Linked DNA regions of Homo sapiens. The protein of the gene in region 1 interacts with the protein of each later gene in a pairwise test. Each region holds a gene or a part of one and is shown in the gene's direction. Other genes may lie near its edges.

Region 1 (8,515 bases):
CACACACACAAATGCAAAGTTAAGACTTAAGACTTAGCTTTAAGTATATCAGTGTTCAATAAATTATTTAATATGGTAAAGCACACCCTCTGATATTAACTGAACTTACAATTCTGTGATAAGTTTTAACAAAATTTACTTTGCAAATATAATCATAATGATAGACTTAAATGATTTCAATATTAAATATGAAGACATGAAATATCATTATAATTACGATAGACTTTATTTCATTTGTAAGTTTTATAATCTCAGCAGAAAAGTCATTATTAAGGGGTTTTGTATTACCGTGTTCATTAGATTGCTATTCGAATATACCATTAATATTAAATTTCTTTTGACTTGACATTTGCCATATACTCTAAGGAAGTTTATTTTAATGTGAAGTAGATTGTAATACAAAGAGCATCTGTTAAATACTTTATGGGAGATATAATTCAGAATGAGAAGTCAGGATGCTTTTCAACTTATTTTCTTGGAATGCTTTTTTTGAATGAATAATGTTGGAAGCATCATTTCCATGTAATAATAAGCATAGCAAGCGTCTTTTTGCACTTGATTCATGTACCAAATGTTTTTGTAATCATAACTGTTTTTATTTGTAAATATTGATTGTTTTTATTTTAAAAGACAACTCTAGAGATAATGATCCAAAGCCAAGGATTATTTTTTTAAATGAAATTAATGTTGCTTGAACAAGTGACTAAAATCAAGCATGTTTTAAAATCAAACATTTATTGAATTCCTACTATGTGCAAAGCACTATTTTAGGGGAGTGAACACAATTAATAAGACTCAGTCCCTTTCCTATATGAACATATTATTGAGACAAAGACAAAGAAACAAATAACAGTGTTGGAAGTGAGAATGTTATATTTTCCATAAAAGAACTATAATTATGTGCTACGGAAGTTCAGAGGAAAGAGATGTTATGTACATAATTGAAACCGCCTGTTAACTGTTAACACATTATTTTACAGACACTACCAAAATGTTTAAACATTGTCTACCTTTGATTAATGCGAAAGAAATTAAAATATCCTAACTATTTATACTTTTATGGTCAACTAAAGGCTCATTATAAACTATTGTTTGTAAAAAGTGTTCTAAAATGACTTCATTTTTCTGCCTTACAACATAGTGTTAGGTCTTACCCTGATGATCAAAGCTTTTTAACAAATATTTCAAGGCCATTATTTTGAATCATCAGTCCTTATTATCAGTATTGTTAGCACATTACCACTGTTGGGGATTTACTTTAAGAGCATTTCATAGCAAGACTTCCTCTCTACTAAGAATTTTAAAAATTAGGTGGCTGTGGTGTGTGCACCTGTAGTCCCAGCTACTGGGGAGGCTTATGCGAGAGGACTGCTTGAGCCCAAGAGATTGTGGCTACATTGCACCACTGCATGCCTGGGCAACTGAGCAAGACCCTGTCTCAAAAAAGAAAACAAACATCTCAAATGAAACTGGAAGTTTAAGAGACTGGGAACCTGGTGCATAGCCTGAAATGGCAGTTTTTAATCCCTGTGGGGTATGAGCAATTTATTTCCATCAGCATCAGCTGCCCAAAAGGCAGTGATTCGCTAAGAAACAGGAGTGTATTTCAGATCTCTACATTGGCAGAAAAACACAGATGACTTTATTATTGTGCCCCTTATTTAATAATCATTGTCTATGATAGGTAAACAATAATTGAAAAAAATAGATAACAGGGTTTTGTTACTTTTGAGTCACTTAATTAAGTGCTTTTTTGTTGTTGTTGTTTGAGATGGAGTCTCTCTCTGTCACCCAAGCTAGAGTGCAGTGGTGCGATCTCAGCTCACTGCAACCTCCGTCTCCCATGTTCAAGTGATTCCCCTGCCTCAGCTTCCCGAGTAGCTGGGACTATAGGCGTGCAATACCACACCTGGCTAATTTTTGTATTTAGTAGACATGGAGTTTCACCATGTTGGCCAGGATGGTCTTGATCTCCTGACCTCATGATCCACCCACCTCAGCCTCCCAAGAGCTGGGATTTTTAAGGTCTTCAGTTTCAGGTTCAGTTCTAGTTAATTATGAGTTTGCTAAATTTTCTAAGCTTAATGAAACTACAGTAAATGGTTTTAAAGATACCCTATGAGGGAAAGTAGAGCTAAGTAAGGATTGTGTTAATCTGCACAATCCTGAAACAAACTGTTGAAAAGAAAATGTAAATCAGTCAACTGGCTTTTTTGGCATCCTGATGACATGCAACCTAACCAATATTCTATGTACATTTTAATTTCAGACTCTTAAAACTGTGTGTCTACATTAAATTAAGTTCAATAAAATCATTACAAGCCTTTTTGAAAATCAAGGACACAATATTCTTAAAAAAGAATATTTATTTTATTAATCCATGAAAAAGGAGGCACAATTTCACATATACAATTTTAGGTTTGCTTCGTTAATTTTATCCTAGCAAGGATGAAATAGACGCCTTCATTTGTCTCCACACTTGGCTGAATGATTTAGAGCAATTCTTTTTTTTTTTTTTTTTTTTTTTTTTTTTAGCAATTCTTAACACAGTGGGACCTGGATAGCATGTAAGAGGACCACCAGTAGAGCATTCAGTAGTATTTTAATTTTATTTGCTTTCAAGTGTATTTAGTTCATATAATTCTCAATTTACATTTGACATTTGAGCATGAGATTTTTATGCTTATGAAAATGGGGCAGGTAAAAGGTTTCAAAGCACTGGTATATAATGTAGCCACAAATTATGCACTTAAAGTTGATATCTGTGCTACACTATTCACTATATGTATTAGTCTGCCATAACAAAATACCACAGACTGGCTCTTTTAAACAACAGAAATTTATTTTCCCACAGTCTGGAGACTGGAAAATCCAAAATCAAGATGCAGGGTTTAGTTCCTCGGAAGGGCTATCTTGCTAGCTTGTAGATGGCCCACTTCTCTCTGTGTTCTCACTTGGCCTCTACATGTACACAGAGAGAGAGAGATTCCTCTTTTTTTTTTTTTTTTTTTGATATGGAGTTTCACTCTTATTGCCTAAGCTGGAGTGCAGTGGTGTGATCTCGGCTCACTGCAACCTCCGCCTCCTGGGTTCAAGCAATTCTTCTGCCTCAGCCTCCCAAGTAGCTGGGATTATGGATGCCCACCACCACGCCCAGCTAATATTTGTATTTTTGGTAGAGACAGGGTTTCACCGTGCTGGCCAGGCTGGTCTTAAATTCCTGACCTCAGGTGATCCACCCACCTCGGCCTCCCAAAGTACTGGGATTACATGAGCCACTGCATCCAGCCTTTTTTTTTTTTTTTTTTTTTTTTTTTGAGACGGAGTCTTGCTCTGTCGTCAGGCTAGAGTGTAGTGGTGCGATCTGGACTTACTGCAACCTCCGCCTCCTGGGTTGAAGCGATTCCCATGTTGCCCAGGATGGTTTTGATCTCTTGACCTTGTAATCTGCCCGCCTCAGTCTCCTAAAGTGCTGGGCTTACAGGCATGAGCCACTGCCCCCGGCCCGATTCTCCTCTTCTTAAATGGGTATTAGTCCCTCATGAGCTAATCTAACTCTTTTTACCTCCCAAAGGCCTGGTCTTTAAATCCCATCACCTTAGAGGTAAGAGCTTCAACATGTACATTTTGGAAGGACACAAACATTCAGTCTGTAACACTACAGCACTGGGGTCTTCAGCATAATGAAGGACTTTAATCTGATATAACAATGCCAGATCTTGATATATCAGATAAACCTCACTCCAGTTTCTAAAACATATTAGTTTGGCTGGGCGTGGTGGCTTACACTGTAATCCCAGCACTTTGGAAGGCTGAGGCGGGCGGGTCACTTGCGGTCAGGAGTTCGGGACCAGCCTGGCCAACATGGCAAAACCCCATCTCTACTAAAAATACAAAAATTAGCCGGGCATGGTGGCACATGCCTGTAATCCCAGCTACTTGGGAGGCTCAGGCAGGAGAATCACTTGAACCCAGGAGGTGGAGGTTGCAGTGAGCCAAGATCTGCCACTGCACTCCAGCCTGGGTGACAGAGCAAGACTCTGTCTCAAAAAAAATAAAAATAAAAAACACATTAGTTTATCTTTGGCAAAGATCCCAGGAACAGGACCACTGACAATGATACACCTAGAATGTATAGGAATGCATATGTATTATTTTTAAAAATTGAGTCCAGGCATGGTGGCTCACCACCTGTAATCCCAGCACTTTGGGAGGCTGAGGCAGGAGGCTCACTTGAGCCCAGGAGTTCAAGACCACCCTTGAACTCAAAGCAACATAGTGAGACTCTGCCTCTGTAAAAACAAACAAACAAACAAACAAACAAGTTTTTAATTAGCCCAGCGTGGTAGCACGCACCTGTAGTCCTAACTCAGGAAGCTGAGGCAGGAAGATTGCATGAACCCAGCAGGTTTAAGCTGCAGTGAGCCATGATCACACCACTACCACTCCAGCCTGTGCAGCAGAATGAGACCCTGTCTCATAAAAAAAAATAATAATAAAATAAATTTAAAAAAATAAAAATTAGGACTTTGGTTGGTTGCCACAGAACAAAACTTTCCAGATAGTATCACATGCCCACTTATTCTTTATGGCTATGTTTTACATTTGGAGTCCCAGTTTAGGTGAAAATAACTGTGCTCACAAGTGCAATGAGAGTTTATATTATTCCATCTAAGATCTAACTCTGCTTACATTCTATTAACTCTGTAACAGAAGTAATAGTCCATTCTGACTTAATTGGTCTGGGGTGTGACTTTGCCATCAGTATTTATTTAAAGCTCTCTGGGTGAGTCTAATATTAGCAACTTGGGTTGTGAACCCAGAGCTCTTAATGTTCTTTGGCATGTTAATAATTGTACCTCTATTTGAGCACTGTGGATTATCTACCAGGCATTTAAAAACATTTTATGGTGCTATGTAACTAGCAGTTGGCCTGTGTGTGTTCCGTGATGAAGATAAGTAGCCTGCTTACATAAGGCAGCACTTGCTCCCTGGAGAGTGTGGGACCAGATTGCTGACCTTTAGGAGTTGTATTTTTTTTTTTTTTAGTCCCTCTCTGTAGTAAAAAAAAACAAAAGTAGTATTCCAAGGATCTTAGAACTTAACTGATTATATGACACCTGCCTCCCTCCCAAAAGAGTTTTATTCTGAAAGAACTACTCATGTAATATGTTTTTTCATCATTATGTCTGTCTGGCAATAAATTATATTGTTTGAGAGATTGCCCACCATAAAGATGAATTTAGAAAAATCACCATCAGTAATTCAAATGTGATGATTACCAAAAGGTTAGAGCTAGATGATGTCGAGGGGAGGAGCCAAGATGGCCGAATAGGAACAGCTCCGGTATACAGCTCCCAGCGTGAGCGACGCAGAAGACGGGTGATTTCTGCATTCCCATCTGAGGTACCGGGTTCATCTCACTAGGCAGTGCCAGACAGTGGGCGCAGGTCAGTGGGTGCGCGCACCGTGTGCGAGCCAAGGCAGGGCGAGGCATTGCCTCACTTGGGAAGCGCAAGGGGTCAGGGAGTTCCCTTTCCGAGTCAAAGAAAGGGATGACGGACGCACCTGGAAAATTGGGTCACTCCCACCCGAATATTGCGCTTTTCGGACCGGCTTAAAAAACGGCACACCACGAGATTATATCCCGCACCTGGCTCGGAGGGTCCTACGCCCACGGAGTCTCACTGATTGCTAGCACAGCAGTCTGAGATCAAACTGCAAGGCGGCAGCGAGGCTGGGGGAGGGGCGCCCGCCATTGCCCAGGCTTGCTTAGGTAAACAAAGCAGCCTGGAAGCTCGAACTGGGTGGAGCCCACCACAGCTCAAGGAGGCCTGCCTGCCTCTGTAGGCTCCACCTCTGGGGGCAGGGCACAGACAAACAAAAAGACAGCAGTAACCTCTGCAGACTCAAATGTCCCTGTCTGACAGCTTTGAAGAGAGCAGTGGTTCTCCCAGCACGCAGCTGGAGATCTGAGAACGGGCAGACTGCCTCCTCAAGTGGGTCCCTGACCCCTGACCCCCGAGCAGCCTAACTGGGAGGCACCCCCGAGCAGGGGCACACTGACACCTCACACGGCAGGGTATTCCAACAGACCTGCAGCTGAGGGTCCTGTCTGTTAGAAGGAAAACTAACAAACAGAAAGGACATCCACACCAAAAACCCATCTGTACATCACATCATCAAAGACCAAAAGTAGATAAAACCACAAAGATGGGGAAAAACAGAACAGAAATACTGGAAACTCTAAAATGCAGAGCACCTCTCCTCCTCCAAAGGAACGCAGTTCCTCACCAGCAACGGAACAAAGCTGGATGGAGAATGACTTTGACGAGCTGAGAGAAGAAGGCTTCAGACGATCAAATTATTCCGAGCTATGGGAGGACATTCAAACCAAAGGCAAAGAAGTTGAAAACTTTGAAAAAAATTTAGAAGAATGTATAACTAGAATAACCAATACAGAGAAGTGCTTAAAGGAGCTGATGGAGCTGAAAACCAAGGCTCGAGAACTACGTGAAGAATGCAGAAGCCTCAGGAGCCAATGCGATCAACTGGAAGAAAGGGTATCAGCAATGGAAGATGAAATGAATGAAATGAAGCGAGAAGGGAAGTTTAGAGAAAAAAGAATAAAAAGAACTGAGCAAAGCCTCCAAGAAATATGGGACTATGTGAAAAGACCAAATCTATGTCTGATTGGTGTACCTGAAAGTGACGGGGAGAATGGAACCAAGTTGGAAAACACTCTGCAGGATATTATCCAGGAGAACTTCCCCAATCTAGCAAGACAGGCCAACATTCAGATTCAGGAAATACAGAGAACGCCACAAAGATACTCCTCGAGAAGAGCAACTCCAAGACACATAATTGTCAGATTCACCAAAGTTGAAATGAAGGAAAAAATGTTAAGGGCAGCCAGAGAGAAAGGTCGGGTTACCCTCAAAGGGAAGCCCATCAGACTAACAGCGGATCTCTCGGCAGAAACCTTACAAGCCAGAAGAGAGTGGGGGCCAATATTCAACATTCTTAAAGAAAAGAATTTTCAACCCAGAATTTCATATCCAGCCAAACTAAGCTTCATAAGTGAAGGAGAAATAAAATACTTTACAGACAAGCAAATGCTGAGAGATTTTGTCACCACCAGGCCCGCCCTAAAAGAGCTCCTGAAGGAAGCGCTAAACATGGAAAGGAACAACCGGTACCAGCCGCTGCAAAATCATGTCAAAATGTAAAGATCATCGAGACTAGGAAGAAACTGCATCAACTAACGAGCAAAATCACCAGCTAACATCATAATGACAGGATCAAATTCACACATAACAATATTAACTTTAAATGTAAATGGACTAAATGCTCCAATTAAAAGACACAGACTGGCAAATTGGATAAAGAGTCAAGACCCATCAGTGTGCTGTATTCAGGAAACCCATCTCACGTGCAGAGACACACATAGGCTCAAAATAAAAGGATGGAGGAAGATCTACCAAGCAAATGGAAAACAAAAAAAGGCAGGGGTTGCAATCCTAGTCTCTGATAAAACAGACTTTAAACCAACAAAGATCAAAAGAGACAAAGAAGGCCATTACATAATGGTAAAGGGATCAATTCAACAAGAAGAGCTAACTATCCTAAATATATATGCGCCCAATACAGGAGCACCTAGATTCATAAAGCAAGTCCTGAGTGACCTACAAAGAGACTTAGACTCCCACACATTAATAATGGGAGACTTTAACACCCCACTGTCAACATTAGACAGATCAACGAGACAGAAAGTCAACAAGGATACCCAGGAATTGAACTCAGCTCTGCTCCAAGCGGACCTAATAGACATCTACAGAACTCTCCACCCCAAATCAACAGAATATGCATTTTTTTCAGCACCACACCACACCTATTCCAAAATTGACCACATACTTGGAAGTAAAGCTCTCCTCAGCAAATGTAAAAGAACAGAGATTATAACAAACTATCTCTCAGACCACAGTGCAATCAAACTAGAACTCAGGATTAAGAATCTCACTCAAAACCGCTCAACTACATGGAAACTGAACAACCTGCTCCTGAATGACTACTGGATACATAACGAAATGAAGGCAGAAATAAAGATGTTCTTTGAAACCAACGAGAACAAAGACACAACATACCAGAATCTCTGGGACGCATTCAAAGCAGTGTGTAGAGGGAAATTTATAGCACTAAATGCCCACAAGAGAAAGCAGGAAAGATCCAAAATTGACATCCTAACATCACAATTAAAAGAACTAGAAAAGCAAGAGCAAACACATTCAAAAGCTAGCAGAAGGCAAGAAATAACTAAAATCAGAGCAGAAATGAAGGAAATAGAGACACAAAAAACCCTTCAAAAAATTAATGAATCCAGGAGCTGGTTTTTTGAAAGGATCAACAAAATTGATAGACTGCTAGCAAGACTAATAAAGAAAAAAAGAGAGAAGAATCAAATAGACACAATAAAAAATGATAAAGGGGATATCACCACCGATCCCACAGAAATACA
Region 2 (8,515 bases), on another chromosome or scaffold:
CCAAAAACAAATCCATATATTTACAACCATCTGATCTTCAACAAAGCCATCAAGAACATACACTGGGGAAAGGGCAGCCTCTTCAGTAATGGTGCTGGAATATGTGGATAACCAGATGCAGAAGAATGAAACTGGACTCCTACTTTTTACCATATACAAAAATCAACTTGAGATAAGACAACTGAAGATTTTACTTAAAGGTAAAACCTGAAAGTATAAAACTACTGGAAGAGAATAAGGAAAGCTCTTCAGAACATTGGTCCAGGCAAAGATTGTATGGCTAAGATTTCAAAAGCAAATGCAACAAACACAAAAATAGGCAAATGGGACTATATTACACTAAAAAGTTTCTGCTCAGCAAAGGAACCAATAAACAAAGTGAAGAGACAATTCCCTTCCTTGAAAGGAAGAAAATATTTGCAAATGATTTATCCAACCAGGGACTACTACTGAGCATATATCAGGAAGTCAGACAACTCAACAATTTTTTAAAATCCCATTAAAAAGTAGACAAATGACACGAATACACATTTATCCAAAAAAGACATACTAATGGCCAACAAGTATGGGAAAAATGCTTAATATCTCTAAGCATCAGGTAAATACAGATCAAAACCCCAATGAGATATTATCTTACCATAGGTAGAATGCCTATTATGAAAAGACAAAAAAAAATCAGATGCTGGTGAGGATGTGGGAAAAAGGAAACTCTTATACACTGTTGTGAGAATGTAAATCAGTACAAATGCAATGGAAAACAGTATTGCTATTTCTCAGAAAACTGAAAAAAAGAACTATCATATGATCCAGCAAATCCACTACTGGCTATTTATCCAAAGGGAAAGGAATCAATATATCAAAGGAATACCTGCATATTCATGTTTACTGAAGCACCATTCACAACAGCAAAGATACAGATTCTACCCAGATGTCCACCAAGGGAGAATGGATAAGGAAAATGTGGTATATATCCACAATGGAATATTATTCTGCCATGAAAAGAAAGAAGTTTTATTTGCAGCAACATGGATGGAACTCCAGGTCTTTATGTTAAATGATGTAAACCAGGCACAGAAAGACAAATATCACATGTTCTTACTCATATGTGTGAGATAAAGTGTTGATCACATGGAGATAAAAAGTGGAATGACGGACACCAGAGACTGGGGAGTGTGAGTGAATGGTTTCAGCAGGGGTTGGGGTGGTGAAGAGAGGTTGGTTAGTGGGTACAAACATACAGTTAGGTAGAATTAATAGTTTCTAATGTTGACTGCAGAGCAGGGTGATTGTAGTAACAGCAATGTATTGTAATTTTCAAAATAGCTAGAAGAGAGAGCATGAAATGCACCAGCACATAGAAATGATAAAAACTTGGGTCACAGATATCCCAAATACCCAGACTTGTTTATTACACATTCTATACATGTAACCAGATTTCACATGTACCCCATAAATAAGTACATATATTTTTATAGCAAAAAAACTTAAAAATGATTCTTAAAAATCTTGAAATTGCAGAATCTGAGAAATGGATATACGGAGTTTCACTACTACCTTATCTATTTTGTTTATTTTAAAAAATTATTTATAAAGGTTTTTAAAGTGTGAAAAAATCCTACAGAGTATATCATACCAAATCTATGATATTCTAGAACAAGCAAAACTATAGAGACAATGCAAGGATAAGTTGTTGTTGGAGGTTCGTTGGAAGGAGGAAGAGGGATGACTAGATGGGACACAGGGGCATTTTAGGACGGTGAAACGATTCTATGTGATACTGTAAGAGTGGATACATGACATTATATATTTGTCAATATCTACAGAATGTAAAACAAAGAATGAACCCTAGCTAAATTGTAAATTTTAGTTAATAATAATATATTAACATACATTCATCAATTGCAGTACGTGTACCACATTACAAGATGTAAACAATATGGAAAACTGTGGGGAGGTTAGTGGATATGTGAGAACTCTGTATTTTCTTATCAATTTGTTTTGGTAAAACATAATAATATTCTAGAACATAAAGCCTATTCATTTTAAAATATGCAAGGTATTTGAAAATACACTTCAATAAAAAAGATATACAGATCACAAAATTATATGAAAAGATGCTCAGCATAATTTATCCTTGGGGAAGTGCAAATTAAACCACAATAAGATTCTACTACATACTAATTAGAGTGGCTAAAAATCCTAAAATATCAGATATAAGAGATAATGTGAAACAAAAGGAACTACTCTCATTTATTGCTGGTTGGAAAAAATATATAGCACTCGTTCGATGAAAGCATTGTATTATCTGATTTATAGACATTCCAAAAAAGGTAAAAAGATACGAAAAACAGATCACCATTACTAGGGACTTGGAGGAGGCTGTTAGTTGACTACAAAGGTGAGGCATAGGGGATTCAACCCAAATTGCTGTGCATGTCAATAGTTGATTCCTCCTTGTTGGTCTATAGAATTCCATTGTGTGGATGCACCTCAATTTGTTAATCCATTCACTTACAGAAAGACATTTCATATTTTTCAGCTTTTGGAAGTATGAATAGAGCTACTATAAACATTCATGTATAGGTTTCTGGCCTGGGCATGGTGGCTCACGCTTATAATCCCAGTGCTCTGGGTAGCTGAAGCAGGAGGATCTCTTGAGCCCAGGAGTTCAAGACCAGCCTAGGCAACATAGTGAGACCTCATCTCTACAAAAAAAAAAAAAAAAAAATTAAAATGAAAAAAGATAATAAAAATGAATGTACAGGTTTTTGTGAGAACATAAGGTTTGCAAATTTATTTCACACAGTAATGGTATTTCTGAGTCATATGGTAAGTGTATGTTTATAATGAGATCATGTTCTTTGCAGGAACATCGATGGGGCTGTAGGCGATTATCCTTAGGAAACTAACGCAGGAACAGAAAACAAAATACTGCATGTTCTCACTTATAAGTAGGAGCTAAATTATGAGAACACATAGATGCACAGAGAAGAACAACACACAGAGAAGCCTGTTGGAGGTTGGAGGATGGCAGGAGGGAGAGGATCAGGAAAAATAACTAATGGGTACTAGGTTTAATACCTGGATGATGAAATAATCTGTACAACAAACCCCCACAACACAAGTTTACCCATGTAACAAACCTGCACATGTGCTCCTGAACTTAAAATAAATTTAAAAAAAAGAAGTCTGGGGGAAATAAAAGAAATTTCCAGATAGTGACTGCACAATTTTACATTCACACAGGAAACACAATAGTGTTCAAGATGCTCTTCATCCTTGCTAGCAGTTAGTAATGTCAGTGGATTTTTCAGCAGTCCTCAAAAATATGATGCATCTACCTTGATTTTAATTTGTTTTTCTGTAAAATCTAATGATGTAGGATAATTTTTCAGGTGCTTATTTAACATTTGTATGTCAATTTTAGAAAAGTGTCTATTGGTGTATTTTGCCCATTTTGAAAATGTTTTCTAATTTTTGGATTTTGAAAGCCCTTTCTGTATTCTGGATACAGGTGCTTTTTGGATATGTAATTTATAAATTTTTTTTCAACCTGTTGTTTGACTTTTTCTGCTCTCAACAGTGTCTTTCTCAAAACTAATTTTTAAAATTATTGAGGATGTCTGATATATTGTTTCTTTTTGAATTTTGGTTTTATTTTTGAGGCATCTTTTCCTAATTCCAAGTCATAAGATTTACCTTATATTTTCTTATAAAATTTTATACTTTTTAATTTGACATTTTTTTTCTCTAATTGCTTTCACTCATCAAGGGAAAGACACTAAAGAAGAATAGAGTAGATCTTCCATCACAGGTAGAGGTTGCCCCAGCCTAGTCCTGCCCCTGATATTTGACCTGAGTAGCCCCGGAAAAAGGCCACAGATAAGGACTATTCTGCCTTTCATCTTGGGCATCTGAGGGAGGTGAGGCTTTTTCTGAGGGGTGGAACTTCAGATCAGCGAATGGATAGTCTTGTCCTCTGCCCCACATACTTCAAGGTAAGGACTCTAAGGAAAGACTGAGGGGACCTCCTGCCACAGATATAGGGAGTTTTAGCCCTGCCCTCCCTGTGCTGTTAGCCCTGGGTGGCCCAAGGCAGGTTTCCCCAGTTTTGATGTCCGTAGACTTCATTTTTGGGGCCTGAGGGAGGTGAGGCTTCCTCACCTTAGACTCAAGTCAGCAGAGAGAGAAGTTCCAGCTCCAGCATGCATTAAGGTGAGAATGCAGAGAAAGGACAAAGATAGCCTTCCTCTATAGATGGACTGAGCTTCAAAGAACCTTCCTCTTCGTGTGAATCCTGAGAGGTCCCATGCATGGGTATCAGGTAGCAACAACTCTCCCTATCCCCTGACATCCTTTTAGAGGATTTCATGGAGGTGATATCCTTGGTGTGAGGAAGCCAGCCTCAAGTCAGCAGAAGGGCCGGGGTGAAGACCCTGATCAAGAGTAAATATGATTACCTTGAGAAATTGAGAAGTACACAGGGACCTCACAGAATCCAGTCCGTTTCCACTCTTAGCCCTGGGAAGAAAAGATTTTTAAAATTGAGGAAGTCTAATATATCATTTTCTTAAATGAATCATGATTTAGTTTCAGGTATTACATCTCTTCGCCTAAGTCCAGTTCAAAAGATTTCCTCCTATGTTTTCTCATAAGTTTTATAGCTTCTAATTTAATTATAATCCATGGAGCTGTAATCCATGTTAAAAAAATTTTTATATTAAGTATGCAATTCAGGTAAATTTTATTTTATATTTTTGCATGTGGATGTCCAGTTGAACTCATAGCACTGATTAAAATACCACTTTACACACATTTAATTGTCAAAAAGTAGAAAAACAAACAATATCAAGTGCTGATGACAATGTGAAAAAACAAAAACACTCTTGTAGTGCTAATAGAAATGCAAGCTAGTGCAACCTTTTTGGAAAGCAATCAAGCCTACAGCGCTTGTACTCTACAACTTTGTAATTTCCTTCCTGGATATAGGCCCACAGAAACTCATATAAATGCACAACGAAACATGTAAATGAATATTAATTGAGCATAATTTCAAAGAGTAAAAAGTAACCACTAGGGGATTTCATAAGTAAAATGAAGTAACACATAAAAAAGGAATTTATCCAGGTATCTGATAAATAAACCAAATCTATATGCTGCAATGAAAATGAAGCTCAAATAAGGCTTACCTTCAAAATAAGAAATGAAGCAAGATTTCTGACCAAATACTACTTCTGTACATTTAACACACACACACAATAATATTACATACTTTCACGTATGCGTAAATTAATATATGAATAGTGAAATAGACATTCACAAAACAAGCAAGAATGGGTGCCTTTGAGTGAAGGACAATAGCCAAGGGAGGTTAGATGAAGAAGAGAGAAAGTGATGAAATAAAATATAAACAAAAGAAAGGTTTTCAGAAAAAAAAAAACCACCACTAATTTTCTCAATTCAGTTGTCTTGAGACATTTGTAAACACTGAATGGACCTCACTGGGGCCTTCCTTTGGATTATCTCTTCTGTTCCATTAAAAAAAAATCTATCCTTTAACCAATGCCATACTTTCTTTGTTATTACTGTAGCCTTACAGTTGTAAGAATCAAAGAAAGAAGAAAGAAACAGGAAAGGTGGCTTGACAGCTAAAGACAGATTTATTAACTTCACCTTCATACAGTGGGCCCCAGTAAAACAATGGGCCTTAATAAGCACATTCCTTTCCCTTCAGGTGCACTAAGAGAAGTTAAAAGCAGACTCAGGGAGTATGCCTGCAGCTGCAGGAAGATGTATGGGAACAGACCCAAAATTCTCCCTCCCAGATAAGCACAACAAAGAAACACAGAGGCAGTCCAAGTCTCTGATAAACTCTCCCGCCCTAAATCCTTAAAAACTCTTAGTCTGTAAAAACAAAACAAAACAAACAAACGAAAAGAGTGCCTCTAACCTAACTTGCCCAAAAACCCCTCTCGGGTGTATTTTTCTAAAATAAAACTGGAAAGGCCTATGCATTATTTTTTGTTAGTAACTGTTACTGCTGCTATGAGGATAATAATTGAGCAAAATGTTATAGTAACTGAGATTTTCTGTCTGATATTTTACCTTGAGGGTGTTACAGTATATAGTCCTCCTGCAAATAGTAGAGTGAGTAAAGCAATTCCTGCAAGGGTTGCATAGTAAATAATTTTTATTAAAAATGTTTTAATATTTGGCTTAAAAGGAGAGGTAGAGGCTGGGCATGGTGGCTCACGCCTGTAATTCCAGCACTTTGGGAGGCCAAGGCGGGCGGATCATGAGGTCAGGAGATCCAGACCATCCTGGCTAACACGGTGAAACCAAATCTCTACTAAAAATACAAAAAAATTAGCCAGGAGTGGTGGTGGGCGCCTGTAGTCCCAGCTACTTGGGAGGCTGAGGCAGCAGAATGGTGTGAACCCGGGAGGCGGAGCTTGCAGTGAGCCGAGATGGCGCCAGTGCACTCCAGCCTGGGCGACAGAGCGAGACTCCGCCTTCAAAAAAAAAAGGAGAGGTAGAAATGAAAAAAAGTATTTGGTGAGGTAGGGGTGAGATTGAGTAAAATGGGTAATTTTTACTCCATTACTTATTTTTTATGATTTTCAGCTTAAGATTTTTTATTTATTTACATTAATATTTAGGACTTTTTCTGGGCTGTTAGGGGTTGCTTTCTTAGCTTTTTAGGCTTTGATTTGAGTGTGATGTATCCAGGAGTTAATTTCTGTAACAGATATAGTTTAAACTGTAGCAAATAATAAAAATTGAAAAACATTAGGCCAGACTAGAATTTAACAACAGGTGAGCTACAGTTTTTGAAACATAATTTTCCTTTTTCAGTTTCCCATTTTTATTAAAAGACAAATTATGGTAGGATTGATTTGCTTTATTATACTTGGCTTAATTATTTATATACAGTGCAGCAAGAATTTGCTACTAGACCTTTTAAATTGGCTTTGATGGAACTTTGTTTCATGGAAGGAATTTGAGATAAGACTTTTAAAAGCCAAGCCTAGCCATGGATTTGTACCATTAAATACCTATGAGTTGGGCAAATTTTTTTTCTTGAGGTTCTAAGATCACTTGGGATTCCTGGCCTGTTAGAAAGTGACATTCTTTACTTACCATAGATTAGAAACTCTGTACAGGGACTGTGTACACAAAATACGAGGTCGATTTTTCAAGGGTTTTATTGGCTATATAAGTTCTTTGATTTTTTTTAAAATTTTTATTTTATTTATTTATTTATTTATTTATTTATTTTTATTTTTATTTTTGACATGGAGTCTCGCTCTTTCACCCAGGCGGGAGTGCAGTGGTGCTATCTCGGCTCACTGCAAGCTCCGCCTCTCGGGTTCACGCCATTCTCCTGCCTCAGCCTCCCGAGTAGCTGCGACTACAGGTGCCCGCCACCCCACCTGGCTAATTTTTTTTTGCATTTTTAGTAGAGATCGGGTTTCACCGTGTTAGCCAGGATGGTCTCGATCTCCTGATCTCGTAATCCACCTGCCTCGGTCTCCCAAAGTGCTGGGATTACAGGCGTGAGCCACCGCGCCCGGCCAGTTCTTTGATTTTTTAAAGGAGAGCATACCATTCCAGTTAAAGCCTTGGTAAAATAACCAGTTTTTTTTTTAATTGTGTTCTGTTACAAAAGAAAACAGGTTCTTATTGTGCTTATGCAAACAACTATATTGTTGTAATGTAAGAATACTTACAACTAGTTTTTAAATTTTAGAGGAACTAGGCAGAAAGAAACAAACAACCTTTAAATTCACTTTACAGGAGTATACTTTGCTTAGTTGTTAAAGGCTGTAGCTAGCTTAAGACAAGTTTTCTTGACTTTGAAAAGTAAAATAAGGATTAGCAGTGTTTTAAGCAAAAGGTAAAACTTGTTTCTGTTTTTTATTAGTTTAGTCCATTTTATTAACTTTTGTTTTGCTTGATATTTATAAACATTTTAGCTGTTCATGAGTTCTGTACATTTTTTGTTGTTGTTGTTGTGAGAAACCTCCATTTGAGAGCACTTGCTAAGGCGACACAGCTTGATTATAAATCATGTTTTGAAGAGAATTAAAAGAAAATAACGATTGTCTGTAAATAACAAAATGTCTAGTTTGGATACAATTAGAAACACAACTGACAAAGAAATTTGGTTATTTCTGTGGTTTACAATAACCTAACATAACAACTTTAATTATGATTAATAGCACATATTTGGACACGAGAACTTTAGACATACCATACAGTTTTGGAACATATATTATTATTCCCTAAAATATAACCTATTAGACATCATTTTTGCAATTGTATCTACCTAAGCATGTTAAATAATTCTGTTTACCTCTTTTCCAGATGCTTCAGGGGCCCTGTGCAGTACCCAAAAGCCAGGGGTTAGGAAAGACAACCTTGACACTAAAGTTTGATTTTGGGAAGCGTATTAAATATGTTTAAAATTTAAAACACTTGACATTATGAAATAGAATTTTAGATCACCCTAAGT

What was found.
Region 2: the proteins of TCF24 (region 1) and MAGEC3 interact in binary tests that used the Homo sapiens proteins (3 or more experiments, as listed by UniProt).

Annotation. Positions count from the first base shown.
Region 1 is NC_000008.11:66,951,914-66,960,428, reverse strand, and holds part of TCF24 (transcription factor 24), read left to right. Parts: intron 1-8,515. UniProt on the Homo sapiens protein: Putative transcription factor.
Region 2 is NC_000023.11:141,861,608-141,870,122, forward strand, and holds part of MAGEC3 (melanoma-associated antigen C3), read left to right. Parts: intron 1-3,863; coding exon 3,864-3,998; intron 3,999-8,515.